Homo sapiens: one gene and its partners. The protein of the gene in region 3 interacts with the protein of the main gene of each other region in a pairwise test. Each region holds a gene or a part of one and is shown on either strand. Other genes may lie near its edges.

Region 1 (7,879 bases), on a different chromosome or scaffold from region 3:
CCAACAGGACCCTGATAAAACCTTGGGCCTGCGGGATCTCGGGAAGGAGAGCTCCTTAGTAAGAAATAAGTGGTCTGGGTGCGGGTGGGAAGAGGACGCCCGAAGGCCAGCGGAGGAGGGCAGGAAGGCAGGCGAGGCGCCGACGGGACCCGGGATGCGCCTTGGGCAGCGAGCGAGCCCCCACCTCCACGTTCCAGGCTCCCTTTGTGCTCACCCTCCCTCCTCCCAAAGCCGGGCGAAGGGCGCCAGGCAGCGCGCACGGGAGGGAGCGGCGGGGGGCGGGCCGGGAGCGGAACAGCTCGCGGCTCTGGAATGCCAGGCATCCAGGTCACCCGCGGCTGCAAGATTAATGGCTCCAGCGAGGAGCCAAGAACAGCTCGGCGCTCACTCGCTCCCCGGGGAGCGGAAACGCCTCCCGGCCGGCCCCCCTCTTCTCACCCACTAGCAAGCTCCCAGAAACCCGCCCCATGGCTTCCTTTCTTTGGCAGAGTCAGGCTCCAGAAGTCCGCCTTCCTCCACAGGCACCCTAATCTGCCGTGCCCTTGCAGCTTCTCCTCCCCAGACTCCTCAGGGAAACCCCAGGGCTGCCCCCTCCCCTTTCTCCCTCCTTCCCTTTGACTCCTTCCCAGAGACCTTAAGCCGCTGCCATCTCACCCCACCCAGCCAGAAGAGACCAGCCTACCTCCTGCCCCACCCTGTCAATTCCTTCAGTGCTGTGTTCCCCCATTCCCTGCCCTAGTCTTTGAACCCTCTTTGAAGGAAGATAGGGGTGCTGCCAGCCAGAGCTAAGTCCTCAAGCTGCTCCTCCATTTCTGCACCCCACACTACCCTTTGTGCCATTCACAGTAGGGTTCCTGTGAAGACTCAAAGCCATGTTTACCCAGCTACCAACCACTCCCATTCCACTTCTCTGCAAACACCTTGAACAGCACTAAAGCTCCTAGTAGGAGCTCAATAAATAACTGTTCTTAGTCTCTTCTGATTGCTAGAGCCTCCTGCTGCTGAGCTCAGGGCTCCCTTTGCCACCCACCCCATGTACCTCTTGAACTGCCCAATAGCTCCTTCACCTCTGGCTGGCTCTCCACCCCTGCCATCCCCACAGAGCCCCTCTCTCAGGCCACCGGGGCTCCTAATCACCGGTTTCTAGGGCCACCCCCGTTGTTCTTTTGCATCTGTGGGAACCTGCTCCTTTCTTAAGCTCACCACTTCCTTCCTGACCTCCCTGCCATGGTACCTTCCTGGGCCTGCTCCCATTCTCTCTTGAACATCTGCCAGTTGCTTAAAACACATCTGCTAATGAATGAATAAATGGACTAGTCAATGAACTTGCCCATTCTTCAAGGATGCTTAGACCGCCCCGTTTAGAATGCATCTGTTGGTTAAGGTCTAGGATCCCATTTTTGGCTGCCTCAGATGCCTCCACTTGGCTTGCTATGGCTCAGCTCCACCATGCCCCCCTACCTCTCACATTCCCATTGCACACTCCCGACCTTTCTGTTGCCAGGAACTCCCTGGGAAGCTCTCAGACCTGTCCTTCTCCTTCACCTCATCTGTCTTCAGGGCTACCTTGCCTCCCGCACTGCCCAATGCACTGCACTGGTGGTCAGCACCGAAGCTCAGCAAATCACTGCTCCCTGGCTTTCCCTCTTGTGTCAGCTGATCTTCTTAAAAGATACAGAACTAGATCCTATTCTTCTTTGGAAGCCACTTATCCCCACTATCCCCAGATCCAGTCTAGTGTTGGGCATACAGTGGGCAGTAAACCTGCTCCCAAAGTACTACTTTGCAAGGGGGAAGGCCAATCTTCCTAGTCCAGAGGGTGTGCAGCAGTCCCATTGCCTGCACACAGGCCAGGCTTCTTAGTGGGGCCCCTACTCACTCTGAGCAAGCAGCTTGGCCACCATGTCCTGACTGCCGGCCTGGGCCTCCTGTGTCTTGCTTGCCAGGCGGCGATTTGCAGATTCCAATCTCTCTGTTTCAAGGGAAGGAAAGATGTTTTAGTGTCAGGTGAAGCTGCCAGCTTGGGATTTTTCCTGACGTCCTATCAGGATGGGGCTGTATCCTCCATATTGGGGATGGGTTCATAAGGAAACCCCAGCTCAGCTCAGGGCCCCATGGGTGGGAGCCTCCTCTGTCAAGAGCCATCATCCCTGAGGGGATCCTAGGCCCAGTACATAGAGACAAGCATCTCTCTATCAGGGCAGCTCCAAAGGGGTCTCAGCCTGGCTCTCTGAGTTCATCTGCACTTTTGACAGAGAATAGAGATTCCCAATTTTTCTCTAGAACAAAAGAAGTAAGTCCTCTGCAGAGGTTCTCCAACCTCCACCTGTGTGACTGGCTCTCACCTCTAAGATCCCGGTTGAAGTCTTGCAGCCTCCTCATTTCACTGTCCATCTTGTTCCGCATGGTCTTCTCCAGGGCCTCACGCTTGGAGGAGGCTCTGGTCAGGCTCTCATGGGCCTCAGAGAGCCGCTGGATTTCGCTTTCCAGCTGCAAGAGTCAGACAGCAGAGCTGAATGAAGGCGAGAGCTCCCAGGGAGTGATTCGAGGCTGACCCACTACTCTCCATCAGAAAAGGTGACAGATGAGAGGCCACCAAACAGGAGCAAAACCTCCAGGTGACTATGGTGGGATGGTCAGAAGCTTGTAGCCTCCGGAAGTAGAATAGACTGCTGGGACCAGCAAGCAACGGTCCCATCGGCTGCCCCAAGGACCAGATGCTGAGTGAACCCAGGGCCAGGTACTTTGGAAGTAGCTGCCTGCGGGGTGACTAAACACAGCTTCCCTGTGCCCAGTGTCCAGAAGGAAACATTCTACTCTTGGCTGGCTTCCACCAAGAAACTGAGTACAGTTGGCCAGAAGTGGGCACCGAAAGACTCCAGCCATGATGGGGTGGTTTGACCTAACTTGGACACCACAGGACAGTCAAGGGAGGCCTGAGGCCATCTGCTAAAACTGAGCCTCAGCGGAAAACTGGTAACCCTTCACTAAAGAAGCGGGCACCAGGCAGAGCTGCCTCTGCCTGGTGTCCCAGGCATCACCATCCACCCAGAGGGCCAGCTGGGCCCCGGCTGCTCCTCCCACTTGGCTGCTGGCAGGTTCCGCACGTGCTCTTAGCTGGCCTGTGATTCCAACAAGTCGCCCATTTTTTTTCCAAGAGGAGAAGTTTTCTTTTTGGCCAGGGCTGGCCTGGAACAGACTTGCTGTTGTGTGGGGGACACAAAGGGCTCTCTGTGGGAGGTGTCCATGGGAGGGGGTGTGTGCAGGGCAAGGGTGCGAGTGTGCAAGGAGCTGGTGAATGGGCTCTTTCTAATCACCACTGGCCAGCAACTGTTCATGCTCCAGGCCTGCTCTGCCGGCCTCTCGGCTGTTCCCCAGCTGTCTGGAGTCAGCTCAGGAGGGTGCATGAGGAGTGAGGGAGGTGGAAGACAGAGGGATAGGGAGAAATCCAGCCAAACAGTTTTCAGGCTCCTCTGCCTCTCCTTGGACTACCCACTCCCCAGGTAGCCCCTCGGGGTCTCTTTCTGGTCTGCCCTTCTGAAGCCCCAGCAGGGCCTACCTTCTCAATGCGGCCAGCCTTCTCCGCAGAGCTCTCCAGCTCCCTCTGCAGCCGCTCATTGTCTCTCTGCAGCCTGGCATTCTCCCTCAGCACGGCCTCCATCTGGGCCAGGTGGGCACTGCCCGAGGTGGCTGAGGAGGCCTGGGCACTCACTGGCCCCTCCACAGCAGGTGGACTGAGGGAGCTCAGGGGGCCATGGCCGAGAGCAGCTGGATGTGGGGGAGGGGGGTGCTCCTGAGATTGCTGCAGGTACTGGTACTGCTGCTGCTGTTGGAGGAACACAGGAGGCACCTGGGCCTGCAGGATCCTGGGGAACAGAAGAGACGGTGCTCAGAGACAGCACAGACCCTCATGGCTCCCACCAGAGCAGCCCGGGGTCACCCCACTCCTAGGCATACTGGGAAGATGGTTAATTATTATCAATAATTAATATATTATTAAAATTACTGCAGATAATTATTCAACCCTCTAGTGTTAGGCAGGGACCAGTAGGGAAGGCCTTTTCCAAATGTTTCTGCCTGAGGCTCTCAAGAGTCAGACAGCAGGGCTAGAGGGGATTAATGTCAGGATGCTTGTTTCATACCCGCCTCACAGTGGCTGGGGCCTTGGGGATCAGCCTGAGCAATCCTGGGCCTCCTAAGCAACTAATGCTTAAATACATCATCTTAAAAAATGCACCCTGACACTTCTAATCAATGGAAGGTTATTTTTGGGGCTGGAGGCCATGTCAATCATGACTGAGCATATAACCTTCCAGGCCCCAGGACAACTTTGGTGGCTGGGCCCCAGCAGCAACCTTGTGTCTATTACACGAGTCGCCAGTTTCAAGACTGCCAAAGCAGCACTCATTTTCTCCTTCCTATTTCAAGTCCTGCCACCCCCCACCCCCCACTCACCCAGAGTCATTTTTAGAAGACTCCAGTTAAGGTTAGAGCAATGAGACAAATGTCAGGGTAAGAGTCTGAGCTCTAGAGTCTGACAAATAGGGGTTCAAATCCCTGCTCCAGCTGTTTAACCTTGGGCGAGTGCCTCAGCCCCACAGACTGGGCATTGCTCTGTTGCATCATGAGGGTCTCCAGCCTCGCTGGGATTTGTTGAGGATGACGCTATGTAAGGCCTGGCAGAGTGCTGGGCCAGTGCTGGGCGGGTGGCAGGTGCTCCTATAATGGTGGCCCATCCTCCATCTCTTCTAGTAGGAGCCTCAGTTTACCCTCAGTTTAGAGAACAAATGTGGCCCAAACTCTTGGTTTCCTTGGGAGTAAGGGCTGCCTCTGGACTACTGTGGTCACTGAGTTCAGGGGACAATATTCTATTGGCCTCTGGCACTGGTGTAACATCACCCCCAGGGCTCCATGTTGAGGGAAGGAGCAAAGGGCAAGAGGCACGGGGAGTCCAAGGGCCTTCCTGGGACCTTGTGATTCCCAGTGTCACAACTGCCTCAGTTTCACAAAGAATCTTCCAAGTCCCAGAAGCCCCGCAAAAACCGAATTCCCCTTCTGGGTGCATCATCTCAGCACTAATGCACACCCAGCCTGCCCCTGACTCTTGCTGCCATGCAGCCTATGGCCCCCCTGCTCTTCTCAGGACCCTAGGCTAGGAGTCTAGCCCGTTTCCTAACAAATAATCTTCACTGGATCATCTGAAAGGAGATATTGGGCAGATGTATTTCTCCTACTACCTAAGGTGGGGCTTCCAGTAAGAGCTGGGAAGAGGGTCCCCACTGGAGTGCTCAAACTCTCCATTCCACTGCTAAAATGGCCATTCTCAAGGTTGCTTCAAGAACTTGCTCCCCCCTGCACTGGGCCAGGCAGACACAACTGGCATTCTTTGGGGATGACTTAGCTCTGAGAAAGAATAGCAACTCCTTTCCCTTCACACTTGCTTTCCTTTCTCCTCGTCCTCTCCCTCCCCTGCTTTTTGTTCTCCTGCAAACAGTCTACTTCCTTGCCGTGATTACTATCTTTTCCTGACAGGGTTCAATAAGGCTGGTCCAAAAGAAGAAACCACCACTCAGCTTCCGAAACTCTTCCTGACCGAGCCCTGAGAGGGGCGATAAAGTGCGAGTCTGGAGGGGTGGAGGCTGGAGAAAAACTATGAGGCTCCAACCTCTGGTTCCGCCATACCAACCCCATCATGTCACTCATTTCTCGAGAGCAAGGAAAGCCGGACGGTGGGAAAGTGGGTGTTTACTAAAGGAACACAGCAGGCATGAAGAGAACCAGACTTTGACCTTGGGCCACCAGAGGAAGAGTCTGAAATCCTTGGGGTCCCTTGGTGGGGTTTCTTGGACTCCCATAGGGGGAGATGCAGCAGTGATGGCTGTGTCTGCTTCTCTGGAAAAGATGCTGGGCAAGATGAGAAGCGTGAGGCAGGGCCTTGTTTCTAGGAACACTTATTTCTCCAAACTCTCTAGACTTCTTGCCTCCCCGGGTCTTCCTGCTTCCATTCTGGCCCCTTACAAACCATGCTCTGCATGTAGCCAGAGAGAGCATTTAGAAAAGGTAAACCAAATCACATCCCCTGAGGGCCTCCCAGCACACTCAGAATCAAACTCTAAGTCCCTACCATGGCCCAGCAGCCTCTCCTGAGCCTCACCAGAAAAGGGCCCACTTGGACCCAGAATCCTTTCCCACTGCAGGCTGCAGACGCAGGGAGCATATGGCAGGAAATGAAGAGGAGAGACAAGTAAGCTCCTGCCCTGGTGTAAGATGCTGAGAGGTCTCTAATCAGACCACTGGGCCTTTCCAGCCTCTAGTTAGGAATGCCTCCCAATAATCACAGAAAGCAAGCTGCTCATATTTTCTTAAAAAATCTCCAGAGAAGGAAGTCCCACCTTCTTCCTGCTTAACTTGGAAACAGTTTGGCAATCATTCCCAACCTTGCCTTTAGGAAGTTCTTTCTGAAATCTAACCTTTAACCCCCTGCTGCAATTTGTGTACTCTGGGGACTCTAGTTACTTGAATGCTACAGCTAAGCAGACAATGGTGCCTATCTCTGAATTAAGGCAAGGGACACCACTAACTTCTTAGGGGACCTCAGCTAAGTCCCTCTTCTCTGCCAGGCATTAGCTCTCCCTTCTCAGGTTGGAGGTGGGGTGGATCTTGCTAGCTCTGACACAAGCTGTGATCTTGAGGCTCTCCTCCCTGAGAGACCTGTGCTGGAAGAAAGCCAGGAGTTGGAAAGCCCAAGGTGGGGAGAGTTACCTGACTTCAGCATGCTGGAAGTGCGGGCTGCCGCGGGCACGGTACCGTGGGTCAGTGACAGCAGTGGTGGTCTCATGAGCTAGTACAACATGAGGGTACTGAGGTGGGGGTCCTCGGGACTCTGGGCCCTCAGCAGGGGGGCCCCTCAGTGGGGGGCCCTGCTGGTTGCGGGCCAGCTGTGGGAAGCTGTGGGAGGAGCTCATGTGGCTGGGGGCCCGGGCGCCGTTCCTCTCCAGGGACAACTGAAGGAGCCGTTCACTCAACGAGCGCACGTGCCCATGCCTCAGCTCCCGCAGGGCCTCGTCCTGCCTCCGACTGCCTCCCGGGGCCCCACGGGGATCTCGGTCCCCCGCATGTGGCCGGGTCCCTGCCTGCTGGGCCGCATAGTACTGCGAGTGGGCTTTGGCCTCCTCATAGGTGGGCAGCTCCTCTCCCTTGCTGGGCTGTGGGCATAGCCGGTAGAGGGTGTTCTCTGCCAGGTGGTTCTCACCGCCCTGGTGCTCCTGGCCCTGGGGCTCCTGCCTGGTGGCCTGCTGCAGCACCTGACTGTCCTCTGGGGCCAGGATCTCCAGGGAGGCCTGGGGGCTCCCTGTACCCCCAGTTCCAGCCCCACCCCTCAGGGCCTGCTGCTGGATGGCTAGCAGCGTGCGCGTCTCAGTCAGGTTGCCGTAGCGCAGCTGCTCCTGGATGAGGCGGTGCAGGACTGTCCCCGAGGAGTCTTCCAGTGTCCTCATGCTTCTTTGGCTTGCACACAGCTGCCTGGACAATGGCCGGTGGCACCTGGCCCCAGAGCACCTGGAGTGGGGTGGGGAGAGAGAGAGAGAAAAGCAATCAGTGGGAACCCATGGGAAAGGAGAAGGCTTTCCAGGATTTCCATTATTACTCTGGTGGAAAGCATAAAAGTGAAGAGCAGGGGTGGGGCGGTTCACACAAGCCTGGGTTCAAGTACCAGTGCTGCCATCTACTGATTAAGACAAGTTACCTAATCTCTGAGCCTCAGTTTCTCCACCAGAAAAATGCAAAGAATTCTGCTTGACTCATGGAGATGAGGAAAAAAAAAGAGGCAGTGGCCTGCGAGCTCCTGGCACAGTGAAAATCCTGGTAAACGATTACTAAT
Region 2 (7,879 bases), on a different chromosome or scaffold from region 3:
TAGGAAAAAGTGTGTTATATGTAATTCTGGTCAAATAAAATTACAATAAATTTCAAGAGATCTTCAAAATTCTTTTGTTGTACTGTAATTTTAAGATGTTTTAAATTATACAATGTTTCAAAAGGACAAGGATAGTATAATAGAAAACACATATAAACTTGCTTAATCTCACAAAAATCCCATGATGTCAGTACTGTTATTATCCCTATTTTACAGATAAGGAAACTGAAGTGTAAGAGATGTTAAAGTCACTTGTCCAAAGTCACAGAGCTGCTAAGCAGTGCTGCTGAGATTCTAGACTACTACTTCTAAATGCTATGCTATACTATTTTTCAATATGACAAATTATGCAGATGTAATGTTTTTTAAAATCAGGAGCAAATAAGAAAACAGAATGTTACAAATTATTGATCCCTTTTATCTAACTTTCCTCCTCCCCAGAGATAACCAGTGTACTGAAGCCCATATGTATTCATTCTTCCCATTCCCATTTTACTTTTACTACTGATTTATGTATCCTAAATAATAAAATCAACATAATCTTGCCAAAGAATAAAGTTCCCAGATTTCCTCATTTTGTGACACCCTTAATGTCTCAGTACTTTTTTTCACAGTACCTCTGGACCAAAAGGAATACTTAAGTTCCATTTAGTAAATAATTAAGTTCAAACTAGTATTTGTCCTAAGTTATTAGCTGTTTGAAAATACACATAAACTAAAAGAAAAATATAATATTTTATTCTTAAACAACCACACTTTACTACTTGGATGTACACTGTTAGGCACCGTACAGCACCTCAAATCGTGGAATCAGATTGGAGACCACCACTCTCACTTCCTATTCCACAATGATTTTCATACGGGACTTGCTTTTTATTATAGCAACCTCCAAAAACCTACCTTTACAAATAAGACATCATAGGAAGGACTATAGTATGGGTTTATAGTGAAAACTACAGCTAACAGATTGTGGGGGTCTGATAGATGTCCAGTGTCACTGTTTCCCTCAAACTCCAAAATACCCTGCAACACTTTAGGTGAGTGATTAATATATAGTATTGTTTTATGTGCTTTTATATTTTACATAAATAGCATCTCACTCTATCTATAGCCATATAAAAGTCTTGGACGCAGTGGTTTACGCCTGTAATCCTAGCACTTTGGGAGGCTGAGGTGGGTGGATCACCTGAGGTCAGGAATTCGAGACCAGCCTGGTCAACATGGTGAAACCCCGTATCTACTAAAAATACAAAACTTAGTGGGGCGTGGTGGTGCACATCTGTAATCCCAGCTACTCAGGAGGCTCAGGCAGGAGAACCACTTGAACCTGGGAGGCGGAGGTTGCAGTGAGCCGAGATCATGCCACTGCACTCCAGCGTGGGTGACAGTGCAAGACTCCATCTCAAAAAAAAAAAAAAGTCTTTATTTCACACAAAATTTTGCTTCTGAGGCTTAGCCACATATATACATATATATGTAGTTCATTCTACTGAAAGATTACACTTTATTCCTTTTTTGTTGGCTATTTAAGTTGCTTCTAATTTTGCCCTTAAAAACAGCACTGCAGTGAACATGTTTCCTTCTATGCCAATGTAAAAACTTTTGGCTAGGTTCTGGGGATACACCTAGAAGTGAAATTGCTGGATTATAGAAAATACATATCTTCAACTTTACTAGATATTGCAAAATTACTCTCCAAAGTGTACCAATTTATGCTTCTACCAGTAGCCTCTGGGTTCCTTTGCTCTACACATCTCTCCAAAACATGTCAAATTCATATGCATGAAATGGTATTTTACTGTGACCTTCTTAATGTACATCCTTTCATGTATTTAATGGTCTTACAGGTTTCTTTTTCTGTGATCTTCTTGTTGTATACTGTTATGGGCTCAATTGTGTGCCCCCAAAATTCATATGCTGAAGCTCTAACCCCTAGTACCTTAAAACATGACTCTTATTTGCAGACAGGGCCTTTAAAAAAGTAATTGAGCTTAAAAGAGGTCACAAGGGTAGGCCCTAATCCAGTATGACTGGTGTCCTTATAAGAGGAGGAAGAGACAGCAGCAAGGCATACACAAAGACAAAAGGCCATGTGAGACACTGCAAGAAGCTGGCCATCTGCAAGCCAGGGAGGGAGGCTTCAGTAGAAAGCAACCGTGCTGGCACCTTGATCTTGGACTGCCAGCCTCTAAGAATGAGAAAATCAATTTCTGTTGTTTACACTACCCAGTTTGTGGTGTTTTGTTATGGCAGCCCCAGTAAACTACTAATACATATACTTTGCCTGTTTTTCTATTACGTGCCTTTTTTTTTTTTTTGAGACAGAGTCTCTGTCACCCAGGCAGGAGTGCTGTGGCACGATCTCGGCTCATTGCAACCTCCACCTCCTGGGTTCAAGCAATTCTCATGCCTCAGCCTCCCAAGTAGCTGGGAATACAAGCGTGCACCACCATGCCCGCCTAATTTTTGTATTTTTAGTAGAGATGGGATTCCACCATGTTGGCCAGGCTGGTCTTGAAATCCTGACCTCATGTGATCTGCCCACCTCAGCCTCCCAAAGTGCTGGGATTACAAGTGTGAGCCACTGTGCCCGGCCTGAATTATGTGCCTTTTTCTTTTTTTTTTTGAGACAGAGTCTCACTCTGTCCCCAGGCTGGAGTGCAGTGGCGCGATCTCGGCTCGCTGCAAGCTCTGCCTCCTGGGTTCACGCCATTCTCCTTTCTCAGCCTCCCAAGTAGCTGGGACTACAGGCGCCCACCATCACACCCAGCTAATTTTTGTATTTTTGGTAGAGACGGGGTTTCACCGTGTTAGCCAGGATTGCCTCAATCTCCTGATCTCGTGATCCGCCCATCTTGGCCTTCCAAAGTGCTGGGATTACAGGCGTGAGCCACCGTGCCCAGCCATTATGTGCCTTTTTCTAAGTGACTTGTAGTTCTTTATTTTAGATACCAAATCTTTGTCAATTATACATATTGCATGTATCTTCACTCCATGCTTTTTACTTTATTATACTTTGGCCATACAGACGTTTTCTTAATGTAGTCAATGCATCGATTATGGATTGCATTTCTCCTGTCTTTTTTTTGAGACAGAGTCTCACTCTGTCACCCACGCTGGAGTCAGTGGCACGATCTCGGCTCACTGCAACCTTCGCCTCCCGGATTCAAGTGATTCTCCTGCGTCAGCCTCCTGAGTAGCTGGGACTACAGGCACGCGCCACTATGCCCAGCTAATTTTTGTATTTTTAGTAGAGGCGGGGGTTTCACCATATTGGCCAGGCTGGGTTTGAACTCCTGACCTCCTGATCCGCTTGCCTCGGCCTCCCAAAGTGCTGGGATTACAGGTATGAGCTACCGTGCCCAGCCCTGCATTTCTCATGTCTTAAGAAATCTTAGGCTGGGCGTGGTGACTCATGCCTGTAATCCCAGCACTTTGGGAGGCTGAGGCCGGCAGATCACAAGGTCAGGGGTTCAAGACCAGCCTGGCCTACATGGTGAAACCCTGTTTCTACAAAAACACAAAAAAACTAGCCGTACATAGTGGCAGGCAGCTGTAGTTTCATTACTCAGGAGGCCGAGGCAGGAGAATAGTTTGAACCCGGAAGGTGGAGGTTGCAGTGAGCCGAGATCGCTCCACTGCACTCCATCCTGGGTGACAGAGCGAGACTCCATCTCAAGAAAAAAAAGAAAAAGAAATCTTTTCTGTTGTCACAAAGGCATTTGATATGGTTTGGCTCTGTGTTCCCACCCAAATCTCATCTCCAATTGTAATCCCCACGTATTGAGGGAGGGACCTGGTGGGAGGCAATTAAATCATGGGAACGGTTTTCCCCATGCTGTTCTTGCGATAGTTGAGTTCTCACAAGATCTGATGGTTTCAAAGTGTTTGGCAGTTCCCCTGCCCCTCCTGTCGTCATTTAAGACATGCCTTGCTTCCTGTTTGTCTTGTGCCGTGATTCTGTTTCGAGGCCTTCCCAGTCATGTGGAACTGTGATCCAATTAAACCTCTTTTCTTTATAAATTATCCAGTCTCAGGTAGTTCTTTATGGCAGTGTGAAAACAGACTAATACAGCATTTTCTACACTTCTTTTATAAGTTAGAACTTTGCAGTTCACATGTAGGCCTTTACCCATGTGGACTTTATTTTGTATTTGGTGTGAGGTAAGGTTCTAATCATTTTCTGCATTGAGAGAGCCAACTGTTCCAGCACAACCAAATGAACACCCCCACTGGTTTATAATGACACCTCTATCAAATACCAGGTGTCCTCATATATAAATGGGTCTACTTTTGGACTTTGTCTTTTATTTATCCCACTGGTTTGTTACCCTTCTGCCTATAATACATTGTTATAATTACTATAACTAATAACTCTTGTTATCTAGCAGGGTAAGTCTCCACATCTTCTTTTTCAAAATTGTATTGGGTATTTTTTTTAACTTTTTCACTTCTGAATGGGGATGTTAGGATTAAGGTAGGATACATGAAATTGCATTAATCAATAGACTTCAGGAAAACTGACATCTTTACAATCTGAACATGAAACATTTAATTATTTTTTATGGCCTCCAGGAAAGTTTTATAATGTTTTTTAATGGAAACTTACACTTTTTGTTAGATTTATTCTTAGGTACCTTAGTTTGTGCTGTTACTGATAATAGTAAGTTTTTAAGAATTACTGTTTTACATTTGTTGTTGCTAGTGCATTGAATGCTATTGGTTTTTTAATATTAATTTTATATCTAGCTTTCTTCTAAACTTTCTTATTAGTTTTAATAGCTCATCTGTAGGTGCTTATGACTTTTCTATGTAGAAAAGTACATATTTGCAAATAATGATAATTACTTCTCTTCCTTTCTAATCCTTATAGCACTTATTGTCGCCCAGGCTGGAGTGCAGTGGCACCATCTCGGCTCACTGCAAGCTCCACCCCCTGGGTTCATGCCATTCTCCTGCCTCAGCCTCCTGAGTAGCTGGGACTACAGGCGCCCACCATCATGCCCGGCTAATTTTTTGTATTTTTAGTAGACACGGGGTTTCACCATGTTAGCCAGGATGGTCTCGATCTCCTGACCTCGTGATCCGCCTGCCTCGGCAGCGCTTATTTTTCTTACACCTGCATGTATTAAATTCCATAATTTCAATAAGCCTTGTCAAATCTTTTCATTTTAGTATTATTTGCAAGTATTAAAAATAAAGACATTTGTATACAGCATTTAGATTTACTTTAATAAACATGATCAGTGTAGGGCCCGGTGTGGTGGCTGATACCTGTAATCCCAACACTTTGGGACACCGAGGCAGGAGACTCACTTGAGCCCAGGAATTTGAGACCAGCCTGGGCAGCATAGTGAGATCCATTTCAAAAACAAAACCAAAAACATGATCAATGTATCTCATTATATGATTAAATCCTAAATAGCTTTCATCTGTCAATTTAGGATTAGAATAACAGATTTGGGGTTAAATCAACACACAGCTCTCTTTTTTTTTTTTGAGACAAGGTCTCACTATGGTTGCCCATGCTGCAGTGCAGTGGCGTGATCTCGGCTCACTGCAGTCTCAGCCTCCCGCGCTCAGGTAATTCTCCCACCCAGGCCTCCAAAATGGACCACGATGCCTGGCTAATTTTTTGTATTTTTAGTAGAGACGGGGTTTCGTCCTATTGCCCAATCTGATTTCAAACTAGTGGACTCAAGCAATCCTTCTGCCTTGGCCTCCCAAAGAGCTGGGATTACAGGTGTGAGCCACTGTACCTGGTGTTTTTTGTTTGTTTTGGTTTTTTTTGAGATGGAGTTTCGCTCTTGTTGCCCAGGCTGGAGCGCAATGGTGCAATCTCGGCTCACAGCAACCTCCACCTCCTGGGTTCAAGGGAGTCTCCTGCCTAAGCCTCCCAAGTAGCTGGGATTACAGGCATGCACCACCACACTCAGCTAATTTTGTATTTTTACTGGAGACGGGGTTTCTCCATGTTGGTCAGGCTGGTCTTGAACTCCCGACCTCAGGTGATCCACTTGCCTCAGCCTCCCAAAGTGCTGGGATTACAGGCGTGAGCCACCGTGCCTGGCCCCCGCTTTTTTTTTTTAAGAGACAGGTTCTCCTTCTGTTGCCCACTGGAGTGCAGTGACATGATCATAGCTCATAACAGCCTTGGACTTCCTGGCTCAAGCAATCCTCCTGCCTTGGCCTTCCAAAGCACTGGTATTATAGATATGATCCACCACACCCAACCTCAATACACATTTAAGGATACTTGTATAGTAGAAAATTTTTGTGTCTGAGTCTGAGACTTGATCACGGCTCATTCATTTAAAGCTACACAATCCTGGGCAAGTTACTCTCTGAGCCTTATTTTCCTTATCTGTAAAATGAAGATAAAAACAGCCCTTACTTCAATTTTTTAAAATTCTTATTTCAATAAGATTTTTTTGTGGATTAAGTGTGATGATGTATATAAAGTGCTTAGCACAAAACCTGGCTATTGTTACTATCACGGAACACAAAAAAAAGTTTCTCTCTTTTGCATATTGCTAACAAGTAGATACTTACCATTTAACAAATTGTCTAGTGTGCCATAAGCATCTTCACAAAGTGTGGATTCATACTCATTTTCCCTTTCAAAATTCTTTATTTCGTTCTGTATTAATAAAAAAGGCATCAATACTTCAAGCAAACATCACAAGCTTCTTCTAAAGGTATTTGCACATTGTTACATAATTCTGCTATTAGAATATTTCATTACATAGGTAGAATGTGCTTTCTAGTATCTTTCCCCAGCATGTATTTGGCTCCCTTTTAGTAAAACTATGCTAACAGAGTCCCAATATTAAACAACAATGTAACAAATAGCTTGTTATTTTAATATTTTGGTTTTTTGGTAAGTCAAATCATGTGACTATAAACTTAGGGATACGTGATAGCATATTTATGTATTGATAATTATTTGATGTTTATTAAATCTAGTCTAAACAGCATTAAGATGGTTATTTCAGTCTTTTAACACTGAAGATATATAAAACAGGCATATATCTTTGATGTATTTTTATAAATTCCTATTTAGTGGAATCAGATGTCACTGACTATCAAACGTTTAGCACAACACTCATGAAGATATTGGGACATTACAATCTTTTATTTTTTAATAAAGGGAGCTAGGCATTTTCATGAAGACAGGAAAGTTGTCATTTATATGCAGGGTGCTGTCAATGTCATTATGAATGACAACTGAATCATTTGCATACTGATGTAAGTGGAAGATGCATTAGACTAGAAGTCAGGTTCCTTGGGCTCTTGTCCTGCCTCTGACTGAATTGGTCACGTCCCCTGGCTGCACTCCTGGCTAGAAAGGATCAGTTTTAACACTGTGTGTAAAAATGTACCTTGCTCTCTCGCATAGGCTGGAGTGCAGTGGCGCGATCTTGGCTCCCTGTAACCTCTACCTCCCAGGTTCAAGTGATTCTCCTGTCTCAGCCTCCAGAGTAGCTGGGATTACAGGTGCTCGCTTCCATGCCTGGCTAATTTTTATATTTTTAGCAGAGATGGGGTCTCACCATGTTGCCCAGGCTGGTCAAAATGTATCTTACGCTAGCGAAACTGGGAAAACCAGACCCTGTATTCCCCTCCTTTATGTGTCCACCGAATATTGTTTTATTGTTCCTTATAGTTTTGAAGAAATTTTCATATGGAAGACAATGTGAATTCTGAATACATCTGAGCCTCCTGGAACTTATAAGCAATGCACACCTGAGGCAAGTCACAAGTGGTGCCGGTGGTTTCCATACAGATTGGAGAATGTGAAAGCATTACACCTTGAGAAAGATTGCTGACATTCATGGTATCCGATTCTGACATGCTTTCTACTTTTTCATGAGAAGTA
Region 3 (7,000 bases):
TGGGCCCTGGGCAGCCAGAGCCACACATTCCCTCTCCATGGGCCTCTGCTGAGACCTATAGGGCTTCACATGCATGCAGTGCAGTCCCAGGGCCAGCAGCATCAGCATCCCCTGGGAACATGTTAGAATGGCAGTCTCAGGCTCTACGCAGACCCACTGAATCAGTATCTGTATTTTCACAGGATCCTCAGGTGATCCACAAGCACATGAAAGTGTGAGAAGCCCTTCCTCTTGCTGAACAGTTTCCTCATCCAAGCTCCTTCTCTTCCATTGTTTCTTAGGGAAGCCAGAATACCTCCCGGATTTCCTAGGGAGTGCACTGGATTTTATGCCAGTTTGATTACCCACAGTTTTCTTCCTCATTCATTCATTCATTCAGTCAGTCAGTCAAATAGTAATTGAGCACCTCCTGTGTTCCAGTATGTGTTCTGTCTGCACCCCTGGTCCTCCTGGCCTTGACTTGCTGGGTTACTTCTGTTAGGATGGGAAGAACTTGGGACTTGGTGTATGAAAGCCACTTACTTGGGCAGGTAGACACTGACACATGAGCAGGAGAGAAGTTACCTTGGTGTCAAGTGCCGACCTTAGAGTTTGAGACAGGTGGAGGAGTGTGAAATGCAGCCCCCGTGGGGAGACCCATCACATGTCCCATGTGCACAGGCTGTGTGCTGTCCCATTTGGCAGCACACTGCAGTAGCCCCACCAGGCTGATGACAATTGAGAAATGCATCCACCCAAAGCAGGAACTCTGTGTCGGAGTTTAGGAGCACCTGAGCTGTTAGGCCAGCCCGGCATCTCCTGAAGGCCCACTCTCCCTTTGTGTGGTAAGACCCCCTCTGTGGGGGTGTGATGAGAGCAGTACTCAGAACAGCAACCACAGCTGAAGCCCACTAAGGAATCCAGGAGATGTGCTGGGCCCTGGAGTGGGAGCACCTTGCCACTGGATTAAAAAACCTGCCAGTCAGGGCTTTAACTGGGAAACAGGTGACAGTCCAGCAGGGCCCTGCATTCTGGTCAGACTGAGAATGAGGACATGTGAAACAAAGGCCAGTAGATATGGTCTGGGGCAGCCTAAATCTTCCCACTTCAATGCTGCTTCTCCCCCAAGGGGAACTTTGGGGTGCAGAGGCTGAAACAGCAGTTGGAGAGACGTGTGGACTCATCTGTGAGGAGCTGAGGAAGCCAAGAACAGGGATCCGGAAACCGGGGTTGACGCCACCTTAACTTCAGAGTAGATGATAGGGGAACCCTAGGAGGCAAGAGCACATGCGTGAGGACCAGGGTGGGCCTGGGGGTGGGGGAGGGCATGCAGAAGGGGAGACTCACCTTGTTCCTGAGATGCCTGGGGTCAGAGGCCACTGTGGAAAGAGGAAAGTGTTCAGTTGTGGAAGACTGGCATGGGGCTCTTCCCTTGTGCCTGCGCTGTGGGGCCAGCCCTGAGCCTCCTGGAGGCCCGCTCTCCCTCTGTGCGGTGAGTAGCCATTCCTCTTAGTTGGTGCTCACCCAGTCCCTCTCCATTCCCAACTCCCTCAGCCTCTCAGCACTGACAGACCCTCTCTTCAACTCCCCTTCACACTTTGTGGCCCACTCTGAGCTGCCTAGAGGCCCTCAAGAGAAAGTCATTTGTCTTTTATCTTGTTAGTTATTTGAGCATAATTGGTATTATTGTTCTGGGAAGGTGTGGTGGGTGCAAGTTTTAGAGAGCACACTCCATCAGGGTCTAGACCACCTGAAACTGAGCCTGCCGCCTGTCTTGTCACCTCCGTGGTTGGGGGAAGTCACTCAACATCTCTTGCCTCAGTTGCCTCATCTATATGATGGGAATAAAAATATCCTCTGCCTGTAAGGTTGTGGTGAAGCTATATGAGTTTACACATATGTGTGAGCACATGTATCTGTGTGTCTGTGCATATATTATTTCTATCATCTGTCATGTATTGAGCAGTTTCTATGTGTCAGGTACAGTCCTGATTGCTATATTCAATACATTTTCTCTCTCTCTATTATCATATGTATGCATGCCATAGTTCTATATAAGTGCTACAGGTATAGTTCTAAGAGCTATCCATACAAATATAGTGTATTTATTTATCGCACTTATAGAACTATACCCAGCACATAATAGGAACTATTCAGCACATGATAGATATTATAAATTATTATTGTTATATTATCATCAAACTGGAGAGAAATATGACATTCTCCAGACAAGGCTCTGCCCTTTTGGCTTGGAATGAGCATCAGGACTCCCTGGAATTGCATGAAGAAGCAGAGTTTGGTCTAGAGTTTGGACTCTGGAGAAGACTGTTTGGTGATTGACTATAAGATTTCAGGCAAGTCATTTAAGGTGTCTATGCCTTGGTTTCCTCATCTGTAAAATGGGAGTAGTAACAGCGCATACCTCAAAGGGGCTTGTAAGAGTGAATGAGTTCACATGTCTCAGAGGGGTGCTATAGAACCAAGAATGAGGCACAAACACAATTCACTTGACTTTATATAAGAAAAATTAGAAAACCAGAGAGGGAAGCACACTGGCTAAAATCACGCAGCACTTTTTATGAAGCAGAGGTAGAAAGAAAAGCCTGCCGTGAAGGACTTTGTTCCTCTTTCCTGCTCCGAGTAAGGAGGCAGCCGGGCTGGGATTCCCTCATTTCAAACCACCGACTGTGAGTGAGGGTTGATGACATAGCCAGACCTCCAGCATGTAGTCATCGTCACAGCTGCTCAACCCTCTGCAGTTTCGACAGCATTTCCACACCTATTTTCTCATTTAGTCCCCACAGTTACCCCATGAAACAGCATGGTAGCTGTAATAATGTGCCCCCAAAGATGTCACGCCCTAATTGCTGCAACCTGTGACTATATTACCCTAAGTGGAAAAGAGGACCTTTCAGATGTGATTAGGATTACAGACCCTGAGATAGGGAGATTATTCTGGGTTATCCAGATGGGCCCAATATACTCATATGATTCTCTAAAACCCAAGGACTTTTCTCAGGTGAGGTCAGAAGGAGGCCTGTCTATGGAAGAATGATTAGAGAAATGTGACTTTGCTGGCTTTGGGAAAGGAAGGGGACATGGGTGCAGGAAAGTGGATGGGCCTCCAGGGAGGAACACAGCCCTGCCAACACCATGATTTTAGCCCAGTGAGACCGGCGTCAGACTTCTGACCCACAGAGCTGTAAGATGATAAATTTGTACTGCTTCATCCCCCCAAATTTATGGTCATTTGTCACAGCAGCAATCAGAAACTAGTACAGGTAGGTAGGTGCTATCAACTAAATATTTGTGTTGCTCTCCAAATGTATGGGTTAAAACCTAATCCCCAATGTGATGGCATTTGGAGGTGGAGCCTTTGGGTGACAATTATGTCATGATGATTATCATGATGAGACATGAAAGATGATCTCTCCCTCTCTCTCTGCTGTGTGGGGGATACAGCAAGGAGTCATCTGTCTGGAAAATGGGAATAGGGCCCTCACTAAGAACCTGACCATGCTGGCACCTTGATCTTGGATTTCCAGCCTCCAGAATTGTGAGAAATAGATATTAGTTCTTTAAGTCACCTAGTTTATGGTACTCTGTTACAGGAGCCAGAACTGACTAAGACAGTAGGGAAGTAGTCACAGTTTATGGATAGGGATATGGAAGGTCTGAGAGGTTAAGCGAATGCCCAAAAAGATAGTTTTGTTATTCAGGTTATACTGGGGCCCTCTGCAGAGAATAGGGAAAGGAGAGTGCAGGGGAGGCTTGGATTCACCTGAAGCAGCATAGGCACACATAAAGAAGCCCCATGACCCAGTGGGAGGGGCGGCTCTATGCCTGTCTGGCTCAGATCTGCTGAGTGGGTAGAAACTGAGCTATACTGTCTAAGTTGAGGGTGGGCCAGAACAGAGACATCCTTGGGTCTTACCTGCATGTTTCTTTTTCTCTTGGATGATCCGTACTTCTGAGTAAACCACATTTTCTCCTCTAGGATTTGCTTAGAAAAAAGTTGAAGTTTCAGAGGATGCTGAGGTTCTTGCCTCTTGTTAGAGATACTTCCTCCTCCCCCAGCCAGAGTCTCTTTTCTGGAAGGACTAGAGCCCTCTAGGCCTCGGCATAGTCCCTCCCCATCTCCTGCCCCACCGCTTTCCCACACCAGCCCTCCAGCTTCTGCCAAATGCAGGATCCTCGGGCCTCACCATTAGTGTACACTGGTTGCAGCTCTTCCCAGGCTGGTACATTGTGATAGGTGGGCTCTTGGGAGTCCGAGTCTGAAGGGCTCCTGTGAGACAGAGAAATGTGAATGTTTCTTAGGAATCCAGACAAAGTAGCTATAATGATCACTCCTAGTGAGTGACTTCTTACTGCAGGGTGGCTGCCAGGCCTGGAAACATGAACAAGTACATAACAAACTGACCATGGGCATTCTATTATGAATCATAATCATATTATATATGTTTCCAGGCTTTCTGGTCATCTAGTGTGTAACAGGCATGGTGCTGATGCTTACAGCAATACGTTGTTAGTTCTATTTCATCCTCGTTTTAGCTGAAACAAACGGAGGCTCCAATAAGTGACTTATGAAGATCATGTAACCAGAAAGGGGATGAGCCAAGGCTCAAAGCTGGCTCCGAACCCTGCATGCTCAGAGAGATCAGTGACCAGAAGGCTCCGAGGTGCTCTACATGTTTGGATGCTGCTATCGTGGGCTTGCCCAGGGATAGCTGTGAGCCTTTGTGTGGCTCCTAAAGTCAGCCTTAGGGATACAAGATGGTGGCCCCTTCTTCACAGGGACTACCTCCTGCTGGCAGAGTGACCTCTCTGGGTGGCCAAGTTGTGCGGCTCCATCTTCTCAGTTGTTATCACAAGAGGTGTTGATGAGATCAGCATCTCCAGAGATTTCTAGGTTGACTGAGCTAAGGTCATCTCAAGATATGGAAAGACTTGGTGGTCATAGTGGTCATTCAGACAACCAAGCCAACAATGGTCCAAGGATGTGGGTTAATAAATGAAAAGGCAATTAATACTTGATGAGATAACAGCCTATACAGCTAAGGGGGTGGGTGCAAAGGTCCTGGGAATTGCCTTAAGATATCCCCAGGGACGTACAACAGGTAGTGGCCACACCCCAGCTCAGCAGCACCTGGCAGAAACTGTGCTCTTGGTAATCATCAGATTCAATTCCATTTTTCCACCCTGTGGACATTTCACTAATCACACAGGAATGCAGCTCAGCTCTTACCTGGCGGGGTCAGAGGCAGGCTTTCTCCCTGTAAAGGAAAGCAGAGGAGCATTGGATTCAGGAAGATGAGACCCTCAGTGGGGCACAGCTCAGGCAAGGCTCACTTAGAAACTGCCAGGAGTTGCTGTCACTGAAGGTTGAATCCTTCTTTGTTATGCCCCAGGGAGGTAGCAGATTGGGCAAAAACTACTGACCCTGCCAGAGGGGTTTGCTATGATGTGAAACGGGAGTCCACAATCCGTAATCCTTTAACCTGGAGATTTTAAAGATAATCTCCAAGGCAGGAAAACAGACTTGATCAACTATAAAAATAGTGTACATTTAAAAAATCGGAAAATTACTGAATCCTATCTGGTTTCTATTTTCATTTCTATTTCTCTGAGTTTTTCTCCTCCTCTTCCCATTCGTTGGGGGGGTCTTATAAGGGTCGAGAGGAAGACACTCTGTAGTTTATGATGTTGGATAAACTACATCTCATCAAGACGTCTCCCACCTTATAGGTCTGTTTTGGAAACTGTGCATTTGGTAAAAGCAATTCGGGAGGACCCAGCGGGAAAGGAAGAGGATTGAGGGACAGAGCGGATGAGCTCTTGCGAGCCTGGGATGGTCACAAAGGCAGCATGAAGCCCAAGGGAGCGTTGCTGGGAAGGGCATGAACTCAAGCCAAGGTGTGCCCAGAGTCACCCACCTGCTTTTCTCGAGAGCCAGCAGTAGAGCAGCAGTGCCCCCGCAGCAAGGCCTGCTATGCTGAGCAGGCCCCCGGCGACTCCTGTGGCAAAAGGGCCACTTCTGTTCGCGGTCAGCCCTGAGGGGGAGACCCTGTGTGTGAGCCAGAGGAGAGGCTGTGGTCTGGAACTGCCCGCTCCCGGAAGCTGCTGCCTGGGCCTGACGGTGAACCTAGGTGAGCAGGTCCCCGGCAGCTAAGCAGGGGCTGGTGTGGCACAGAAGATGGCTCCTGTCTTTGTGAGGAAGCCGTCTCTGCGCCTGAGACAAGTGTCCAGGGTCAGGGTGGCCGGTGGCCAGTGAGAGAGGAGGCAGCCAGGTGAGGACCTCTAAAGTCAGTGGCGCTCTTGCGCCCAGCCCGCCAACCCGCGCTCTCAGCCCCAACGCCATCACTTCAGAAGCACTTCAGGAAATATAGCAGTTTAGAGAGCTGCCAGCTGTGTTACTTCGCCCTGAGGAGTGCCTTTCTGATCAAGCACTGTGAGGGTTATCAGAGGGTCCGCGGAGGAAACATTTTGTCCGCATCTGTGGCCCGGGCACGGGAAACTTACCTGTGATATAAAGTGTCACTGTCTCACTGCGCTGGGCCCCGAGGCCATTGTCGGCCTCACAGGAGTAGTTTCCAGAGTGCTCTGCAGTCAGAGAGAGGTTTAAGGACGCTCCTCCAGAGGGGGACGACCTATTTCCTAGGGTGACATCCTCATGAAAAAACCGGTACAGGATCAGGGGAGAGCCTCTCAGGGCCTCACAGTGAAGCTCCAGCAGGTCCCCCACCGCAGCATGGGTCCCGGGAGCCCTGAGGGTGAGGACCGGGCGAGACACCGGAACTGAAAGAGAACAAAAAGTCAACAGCAGTTTCTGCTTCTAACATATTTGTAAGAAACAAAAGGTATCATAAACAAATGTAAAAAGTCATATCTCAATCTTGGAAAGTAGATTAAAACATAGATGATAAAGCTAATTACTTTGACCTGCTAATAGTTTTCAGTGTACAAAAATATCCAATAGAAAACTGTAAAAAGTGTATAAATCACTGAAAACTTCAAATAG

What was found.
Region 1: the proteins of FCRL5 (region 3) and AMOTL2 interact in binary tests that used the Homo sapiens proteins (3 or more experiments, as listed by UniProt).
Region 2: the proteins of FCRL5 (region 3) and CAGE1 interact in binary tests that used the Homo sapiens proteins (3 or more experiments, as listed by UniProt).

Annotation. Positions count from the first base shown.
Region 1 is NC_000003.12:134,363,938-134,371,816, forward strand, and holds part of AMOTL2 (angiomotin-like protein 2), read right to left. Parts: intron 7,558-7,879; coding exon of another isoform or gene 7,497-7,557; coding exon 6,763-7,496; intron 3,926-6,762; exon of another isoform or gene 3,867-3,925; coding exon 3,560-3,866; intron 2,491-3,559; coding exon 2,346-2,490; intron 1,973-2,345; coding exon 1,880-1,972; intron 1-1,879. UniProt on the Homo sapiens protein: Regulates the translocation of phosphorylated SRC to peripheral cell-matrix adhesion sites. Required for proper architecture of actin filaments.
Region 2 is NC_000006.12:7,379,233-7,387,111, forward strand, and holds part of CAGE1 (cancer-associated gene 1 protein), read right to left. Parts: coding exon 7,747-7,879; intron 6,641-7,746; coding exon 6,553-6,640; intron 1-6,552.
Region 3 is NC_000001.11:157,514,516-157,521,515, forward strand, and holds part of FCRL5 (Fc receptor-like protein 5 isoform 1 precursor), read right to left. Parts: intron 6,778-7,000; coding exon 6,502-6,777; intron 6,047-6,501; coding exon of another isoform or gene 6,033-6,046; coding exon 5,916-6,032; intron 5,256-5,915; coding exon 5,228-5,255; intron 4,268-5,227; coding exon 4,185-4,267; intron 3,983-4,184; coding exon 3,914-3,982; intron 1,359-3,913; coding exon 1,327-1,358; intron 1,250-1,326; coding exon 1,160-1,249; coding exon of another isoform or gene 1,087-1,159; 3' UTR 1-1,086. UniProt on the Homo sapiens protein: Plays an important role in B-cell response to antigen that acts both as a negative or positive coreceptor.